Regions from separate parts of the Homo sapiens genome. Here region 1 is linked to region 2. The links come from fine-mapping of genetic effects on gene expression. Tissue or cell type: whole blood. Region 2 holds a variant in brackets; the other region holds the start of a gene. All regions are shown on one strand. Distances are from middle to middle.

Region 1 (4,376 bases), 29 kb after region 2:
TTGTCTCAGTGAAGCTTCTTGAGACCCTCAGGAGAACAGCGTTATTCTTATGACCACATGACTTGTAAGGAAACGGAGGCCCAGAGAGGTAGAGGAACTTGCCCACATCACACAGCATGATCGTCAGAGCCTGGCCTGCGTGAGGCTTGTCTGATCAAGAGCCCTATTCTTACTCTCCAGGATGTGACTAGCGTTTTGAAGGAGATGACTTCATTTATTCATTTACCAGACCAGCTCTGAGCATCTGTCGGTGCCAGGCCCAGTTCTAGGCCCAGGAGATCTCCAGAGAACAAAGGGGATGCCCTCCTGGAGGTGACATTCTAGCTGTGCTGGGAGGAAGGAAGGGAAGTGACCCTGGCTGGCCAAACTTCCCCCCAGGCTGCCCTGGCAAAGGACCAATTTCAGGCAGGGCTGGACCCTTCGGCTTCTGGGCCCACCCTTGATGTTTTATTTGAGGCTCTCCTGGGTGCTGGAGCTTCTGAGATGAATTTGCCATCTGTCCCCTACCTCCTGCCCCTGGAGTTCCCACTGGGAGGAGGGCTAACCAGGATGGGCTTCCTGGAGGCAACTGGAGTCCTGAGGATTAAAGAGGTACTGAGATGGAGGACAGCTGAGTGAGCAGGGGGGGACATTGGGGGCTATAAGGGGCAAGCGAGGCCAGGGGGCACAGGGAGAAGGGGACGGGAGGAGGGGGAGGCAGGCTGCACTAGGAGCACCTGCATGTCCAGATGAGGGGTCTGGACTGTGTGTCATGGAGACCCCAGGAGAGAAATGGCCCCTCCCCAGGATGAAGATATGTAGAGCAGTCCACACCTCTGAGCTCCAGGATCAAACCTACTTTTTTCCAGCTGTGCGACCCTGGGGAAGTCACTACACTTCTCTGAACCCCAGGTTCCTCATCTGGAAAATAACCCGGCAGCGAGGATTAAAAGAGGCCCATATATAACATGCTTAGCATAGAGCCTAGCACAGCGTAGGTGTGCAAGGTGTCCTGGGAGTGGGGGTAACAAAGTCACCTCTAGACTTTGGGTGTGCCCTCCGTACCTGCCCTGGGATCTGAGACCTCCCCAGGCTCCATCCCAGCTTCTTGCACACAGGTGGAGCTGTGAGTTTGGGGAGATGGAGAAAGGCCGGGAGATCAAGGCAGACTAATGATATTGTGGGTTCCCCCTGCCCTCCTGTGAGGTGGCCACGGGACAGTGTGTGGACTCCCCAGCTCCTTGCTGGGCTCCACTGGGCACTGTTCGAGGTCTAGTCAGGGCGTCCCAGGTCACAAGGGGGCATGGAGGAGGACACTTGTGGCCCTGGGCCACAGGGGACATTGGGCACCACATGTGAGGGTGTTTATCATGGAGGAGGTAGTGATTCCAGCAGCCGCCATTGATCCAGCACGTACTGTATGCCAGGCCCTGCCTTAGCGCCTGGCACAGAAACCTCATCTGGCCGCCTCCCCCGCTGCGGTGGGGCCTACCCCATCTCCGTTTCCTAGAGAGGGCCCTGCAGAGTGGCGAGGTAAAATGACTTGCCAAGCAAGGCAAGATCAGGACTCAAACCAGGCCTCTCTGTCAGAGCCTCCCATTTCCTCAGAACTCTCAGGAGGAAAGGGAGGTGAATTTTTCTGCACAGCTCCCAAAGGCCTTGACAGGGAGGTGGGGTTCAGCACACTACAGGAAAGAGTTTCCAGCAGCTGGAGCTATCCCCGAAGTGGAGGTAGTGAGCACCCCATCACTAGACATATGCAAGAAGAGACAGAAAGGGAAGCGTAGAGGGGATTGCAGTGTGGAGTGGAGGTTGGATGGGAGGACTTCAGAGTTCCCTTGCAGCTTAACAATGGCCTGTGAGGTGGCAGGGATGAGTCAGGGTATGCGTGTGTGGAGGGAGGGGTGGTGAGATGAAGACCAGGGAGAGGAAAGGGTGGACCTGAGGCCCCCATGGAGAAGGGACGGGCAGGATGTGAGTAATGGGAGAGGCAATCACCTATTCTCCTGGGCAATGCTTTGGGGGTGAGCAGCGGCAGACCAGGATGCCCCAGGGAATGGCCAGGTTTGGGCCATCTCTGGAAGTGACTGGTCCCCGGAGAGAGGTGGTGGGGCTATCTGCAGCTGAAGAAACGGGCAGGGCCAGAGAAACAATGCAAGGGGACTCCTGGGTTTTGGCTAAGTAGTTTTGGGGGAGCAGGTGAAGACGTGGGGATCCCTGGCCCAGCCAGGAGCTGCCCTAGTATAGGCCCAGCCCCAAGGGTTGTGTGGGGCAGTCTGGAGGTTTTGGCCTGGGAAGGGGTCGGGGGAAGGCTGTATAAAAAGCTTGAAAGTGCGGAACAGGTTGGTGGACCTGAACTCCACCTCCTCGAGTGGGCCCCCTGTATCCACACCCTTCCCAGTCCTGAGCCCAGAGTTATTCTAAACTCCCGCTGCTGGGAGAGGGGAACTGGGAACCACTAAATGGCAGAACAGCACCCTTTTCCGGCCATATCACCTGGGCCAGAAAAAAAAAAAAGAGGGGGCCCAGAGAAAAGCGGGCTGTTTCTGGGGCACCGCGGAGGCCGCAGATCAGAATCCAGCTTTTTACAATAGAGCGGAAGCGAACCTGGCTCAGGGCGATTCCGGGGCGGGCTAGGCCTGCGGGTCTCTCTGCCTGGTCCCCCGGGGCTTTTCTGTCGCGCGGAGGCTTCCTGTCGCGGGCCCTGGTCCCCCCTAGCCCCCTTCCGGGATGGGCGAGCTCCCGTCTTCAAGCCCAAGTTAATGACCAGGGACTTTGAACTTTTTGGAGATCTGCAAAGGGCTGGCCCCTCGGGGACAGTGACGCCCCCCACCCCCTCCCCTGAGCCCGGATCCTGGATTACCCCAAGCCACCGCCCGGCCTCCAGCCACCTCCCTGGCTCCGGCGCGGGGCCCTTCCTGGGACCCCTCCTCTCCCCGGTCCCAGCCGGGCGGCGCCGTTGGTACATCCCGGCCGGTCCAGGTGGTAGCGCCCGCGCGGCTACCGTAATTCCCCTACGTCCCGCGCCCCAGTTTGCGCTGAGTCGACTGAGCCCGTCCCGCGGCTCCCGTCCCCCTCTCCCCGCGCGCCCCATGAGGCTTTGGCAGTCTCGGCCCGAGCCTTAGAGCCTTAGACACCGGGGAGGAGACCCTGGTCCTGTTCCTAGGTGAGTCGCGGGGAAGTGGGAGCTGCGCTCCGGACGGGGGGTGGGACTAGGCGCCAGGACCCCCCTAAACCGATGGACAGAACCCGGATTCGAGATTCCCACGTAGTGCCAGGCCTGTGGGTGGGTACAGGGTCCTCACCAGCTGTATCTCCATTTACGTGAGGGTGGAATGGGTTCAAGCTCCCGCCCCCATCACAGTGTCTCTAGGGTGGGTCGGCTCGGAGATAGGGCCGTGAGGAGTCTATGGGACCCTGGCCCCGGTATGGGGGGTATTGGCGGGGCAGGGGGATCCTGGAGGGGCCCGGGCGCGCGGCGTGGCTGGGAGGCTCAGCCGATCCTCCCCATCTGGCCAGTCCCGGAGTCGGTCCCAGGCGGAAAAGCCCTCTCGAGGCCGGCAGGGGGCGCCAGAGGCTGCGCCTCGGGCAGTCTGAGCAGACCCAGGCACCCACTTAGGGGTGGGGGATGCGGGAGACCCGTGAATCCGGGGAGGCCCTGGCCTGCCTTGGTGGAAGTCTGGGAAATGGAGGCCAAGAGGTCCCCTGCAGATTCCTTAGTAACTCCTCAAGTTGAGGGAGCTCGGGGGTATTTTACCATTCTCCTGCCCTTTAGCCGGGGTCCGGGCACACACTAGGACCTGGCAGCCATCCCCAGATACTGAATTCTATGCCCTCTTGGCACAGGTGGGCAAATTGAGGCCCAGTAGGGGAAGGGTGGGGGAACGTAGGCTCCAGACCAGGTCTTCTGAAGCCCAGGCAGGTGCCCTCTTTCCCCCGCTCCCTACCAAGGAGGCTTCTAAGTTGCACCGGGGAAGGGCTTGCTAGTCCAGGTGCTCCGAAGACACACGCTGGGGTCTGGGGCTGGGAACTGCAGAGGCTGGGCAGGAGGGGATGTTCACAGACTGCAGCCCCTCCCTCTTTCTCTAGCACTGGGTCCCAGCCTTGGGCATACTAGCCAGGACCGCTCCCTGGGGAGGAAGGGGCCTTCCTGGCTTCCAGGGCCCGTGCGGTGGGCTTAGCCTGGGGAGAGGTTTTCTGTGTCCCTGCCATCTGCCCGGCACAGGGCAGGGCCTTAGGTCAGGCTCTGACTCCAGGTGAGCCTCAGAACCCAAGGGGTGATGGGTGAGGCCTGGGCCTAGGGGAAAGGAGGGTGGGTAGGCCGGGTGGAGCGTAGAGAGCCGCCTGGCAAAGCCACCCCGCCCTGGCTGGCCTGCCCATGCATGCAGTCTCCACCC
Region 2 (4,368 bases):
TGCTGGGATTACAGGCGTGAGCCACCGCGCCCGGCCTAGGTCATTTGTTTTTGGGTTTGGATGGCAAGATCATGGATAAGACAGCAGGCTTTGATTATAGAGCTCTGAGTTCAAATCCTGGCTCTACCACTTGTCAGTGGTGTAACTTGGAGGAAGATGCTTAGCCTGAGCCTGTTTTATGTTTTGAAGATTGGGTAATTGTCCTTCCTTCAGTGTTCCTGGGTGAGGAGTAAGTGAAGTCATGTCTATAAGAGATGTAGCACAGTCTCCGGCATGTAGAAACGGTCAGTAACTCCTAGTGTGTAGCTAGCCTCTGATGAGATGGTAAACTCAGGAGGCTGGCACCACGGCTGTGCTACTCACGGTCATGCTGGAGGGATGCAGAAACTAAATGAATCCACAGCTACTTACTCATCTTGCCTCTGGCAGGTTCACCTTAAAATTGTTGCTACCAAGCTTCCTGTGGTCAAAGAGCCCTTGAGGAAGCAAGCTCCACGGCCACCATAGATAACCCATTCCTGAAAGTTTTTCATAAACCCCCACTTGTTGCTTTTAAAATTTTATAAGCAGCTTACACATGTAGAAAATGATCCTCCAGCCCACCACCACATAGTAATCACTGACACTGTGAGGTGTCTCAGCTGGGGTTCTGCTGTGTGTGTGTGTATTTTACAAAATATGTATGGTTTCTGTTCAGCTCTTTTCAGTTAACAGATGAACTTTTGTATCATTAAATATTTTTGAAAACATGAATTTAGTTGTGTAATTTTATGTAGATAGGTCATTTTATTCCAGGTAATCACTTAAATGCTTAGAAGAAACTATAGTGAAAAAACACTGGGAGGAAAAAAAATGTTGAAAGGCGGTTAATGAAGTGTGGAGACTCCAGCAAATGCTTGTGATGTGTTTGTTTGTTTGTTTTGTTGTGCCCTTTTTTTTCTTTTTGAGACAGAGTCTCTTTTGCCCAGGCTGGAGTGCGATGGTGCAATCTCGGCTCACTGCAATTTCCACCTCCCAGATTCAAGCAATTCTCCTGCCTCAGCTTCCCCAGTAGCTGGGACGACAGGCAGGCACCACCACACCCAGCTCACTTTTGTATTTTTACTAGAGAGGGGGTTTCACCATATTGGCCAGGCTGGTCTTAAACTGACCTCAGGTGTTCCACCCGCCTCGGCCTCCCAAAGTGCTGGGATTACAGGCATGAGCCACTGTGCCTGGCCTGTTTTGTTGTTGTTGTTTTTAACCATTGAAGTATTGAGTGCAGTGGGAGTTTATTTTTTCAGTATTTTTAATTTTTATTTGTCACTGACTTGAAGCTCAAGTGGGAGTTTAATTTTCCTGTCTTGGTTCATATGTAAGTAAAGAGGGGATGTTGCATTCTTTCTGGACTGTCTTTGGGAGTGTATTAGAAGGAAACAGGGCTTTGCTCCTGGAAGAGTTCAAGTTTTAAAAAACTAAAATGACTCATGCCTGTAATCCCAGCACCTTGGAAGGCTGAGGCAGGAGGATCACTTGAGGCCAAGAGTTTGAGATCAGCCTGGTCAACATAGTGAGACACCATCTACTTAAAAGAAAAACAAAAAAAAAACTGAAACAAACCCCCACCTAGTGCTGTGCCGATAAAACTGCCTCTCGGCAGCGAGGACTCAGCCCTTGTCTTCCCACACCTCATAGGGTTGGGCCTAGCAGAGAGAGATTGGCTGACAAGCCCAGCCTGAACAGTGGCTAAA[G/A]TAAATATGGGGGCCATCTATGCAGTAAGTGGGGAAGCCTACGTGATGTTCAGGGCCTTTTCAGAAAGACCTTGCTAAGTTAAGTATTCCCAAGGCTTTGCCAGGAAGAGCGGTAGCCGCCGAGTTGGGGGCAGCAGGTCCAGTCTGCAGTGCCAGGAGCTGAGCAAGCAAAGTCTTGCGAATCAGCAGAGTTCAGCTGGGCAGACATGTGCTGGGCTGGGAAGCCAAGGGTAGCTATGGTAACCGGCCCTGAGGCGGCTGCGGTGCTCTGCAGACTGGCTTGGGTTTTTCTAATGTTTTGAGGCTCACTTGATCTCCCGCTGTGACCAGCCCCTCTCTGCCTGGCAGGGGAAAGCCACCAAACTAAGGCCTTCCTGGTAGCCAAGGAGCCCAGCAGAGGGGCTGCTGCTGGCTGCTGGGATTGCAGAGGCCGGGGTCTCTGTGGTGTTGCTTTCCTGGAAAGGAGGGACGGCACCTCCAGGGCAGCCAGCAGTGTGGGAGCCCATTCCAGGGCGCAAATGGGCACTCAGGAATGGAAAATCCAAGAAGGAACCAACCACCAACAAGGAAATGCAGTGTGAGCGGCGGCTGCGAAGTCTGTGCCTTCAAATATACAGCGCCCAGGGGACCTGTGTTGGACGGGGAGCAAATTGGCAGGGCTGAGAGCGCCTTGGTTTTCTGTGCAGACAGGTCCAGCTGCAGAAATTAAGACTGGGGCTGAGTCGGGGAGAAGCCTTCCATGTTGAGATGGCAACTGGGCAAAGCAGGACGGAGACCTGTGTGTCTGATTAGAGAGGCCTGTGGCATTGGCATGTGGCTGGAGGTCCAGGCAGGGTGCCACCACCGCAGAGGTCAAGCATGAATTCAGTCCTGACAAAACATGGGTCTCCACCTCGAAGCTGGCTCAGCCTTTGTTCAGGAACCGGTGAGTATGTTTTCTATCTCTTTTGTCTAGAAAGGAGGTTTGAGGACACAGAGTGAAAGGAGGGGCTTTGCAGGTCTTGGAGGGCTCCAAGGACTCACACTCACTGAATTAGTCCGGACGGTTTAAGAGCCACTTGCAGGCTGGATCCATTTGGTCTCATTCTTCCATTAATCAGTGAGTTAAGCCCTCCAAGCCCTGCAGTTTGAGCCATCAGCTCTGATTTGAGGGCAGAGGAGGGGGACTTGCTGCTCAGCCATCTAACTCCTGACAGAAGAAAGACCTAGACTCCATATGCCGAAGGGTTGCTGGGCGCAGTGGCTCACGCCTGTAATCCCAGCACTTTGGGAGGCCGAGGCAGGCGGATCACAAGGTTAGGAGATCGAGACCATCCTGGTTAACACGGTGAAACCCCGTCTCTACTAAAAATACAAAAAATTAGCTGGGCGTGGTGGCACGCACCTGTAGTCCCAGCTCTCGGGAGGCTAAGGCAGGAGAATGGCGTGAACCCGGGAAGCGGAGCTTGCAGTGAGCAGAAATCGTGCCACTGCAGTCCAGCCTGGGCAACAGAGCAAGACTCCGTCTCAAACAAAAACAAAAACATATGCCAAAGGGTTGCTCTGGTGGCAGGTTGGCTTTGCTGCTGTGGCTCTCGTGTTAGAGGAGGGTTACCTGTTTCCTCCTCTGTGACATAGAAAGTGGGGCAAGAAAGATGCCCCAAGGCCCTTCAGACTGTCCCATTTTGTGCCTTCAAGTTGCACGCCCCTGGCAAGGATGGTCTGGAACCGTTCCCAACCTTGTCTTTGTAGCTCTCGGGAAGGGCCAGGAAATTCCTCCTGCACATCCATATTTTCTTTTCTTTTTTCTTTTTCTTTTTTTTTTTTTTTTGGGATGGAGTTTCACTTTTGTTGCCCAGGCTGGAGTGCAATGGTGCGATATGGCTCACCACAAGCTCCGCCTCCTGGGTTCAAGTGATTCTCCTGCCTCAGCCTCCCGAGTAGCTGGGATTACAGGCATGCGCCATCAAGCCCGGCTCATTTTGTGGTTTTAGTAGAGACGGGGTTTCTCCATGTTGGTTGGGCTGGTCTTGAACTCCCAACCTCAGGTGATCTGCCTGCCTCGGCCTCCCAAAGTGCTGGGATTACAGGCGTGAGCCACCGCGTCTGGCCCTGCACATCCATATTTTCAAGTTTACTTTTAATATCCGCCATGACACGGCCGGGCGCAGTGGCTCACACCTGTAATCCCAGCACTTTGGGAGGCTGAGGCGGGCGGATCACAAGGTCAGGAGATCAAGACCATCCTGGCTAACATGGTGAAACCCCGTCTCTACTAAAAATACAAAAAATCAGCTGGGCGTGGTGGCAGGCGCCTGTAGTCCCAGCTACTCGGGAGGCTGAGGCAGGAGAATGGTGTGAACCTGGGAGGCGGAGCTTGCAGTGAGCCAAGATGGAGCCACTGCACTCCAGCCTGGGCGACAGAGCGAGACTCTGTCTCAAAAAAATATATGTATATATATATCCGCCATGACGCATTTTGGGAGTCGGGGGTCAGGAATAGCGTTCATGAAATCCAGTAACATTCTCCTACCCGAGTTGGAGCCTGGTCTGGGAAACATCCCGGCCCCAGCGGGATAGCCTGGCCTGGCCTGGCCTCGGGGCATTTGGGCCATGGACCCTTCTGTTTGTCGTCAGATCTGAGCCTGTTCCAACCTTT

The links. PIP is the estimated chance that this variant, and not a neighbour inherited with it, causes the effect. A credible set is the group of variants that fine-mapping cannot tell apart.
Region 1: it holds the start of PLEKHG5, and the variant in region 2 is the best candidate, but not a certain one, in a credible set for the expression of PLEKHG5 in whole blood (INTERVAL, PIP 0.88).

The regions. Positions count from the first base shown.
Region 1 is chr1:6,489,214-6,493,589 of GRCh38, reverse strand. PLEKHG5 (pleckstrin homology and RhoGEF domain containing G5) reads left to right here and starts at 1,923. Exons shown (of 21, transcript NM_020631.6): 1 at 1,923-1,953. RefSeq lists silencers at 2,633-2,712, 2,773-2,862, 3,273-3,632.
Region 2 is chr1:6,517,732-6,522,099 of GRCh38, reverse strand. It overlaps NOL9 (nucleolar protein 9), which reads left to right. Exons shown (of 12, transcript NM_024654.5): 12 at 1-753. It also overlaps a transcript of PLEKHG5 not described here. Among named protein-coding and RNA genes, the nearest start is that of PLEKHG5, 28 kb to the right of the region's middle. RefSeq lists an enhancer at 1,517-1,811 and silencers at 1,877-2,171, 2,625-2,825. The variant G/A (reference allele first, on the strand shown) is at 1,731.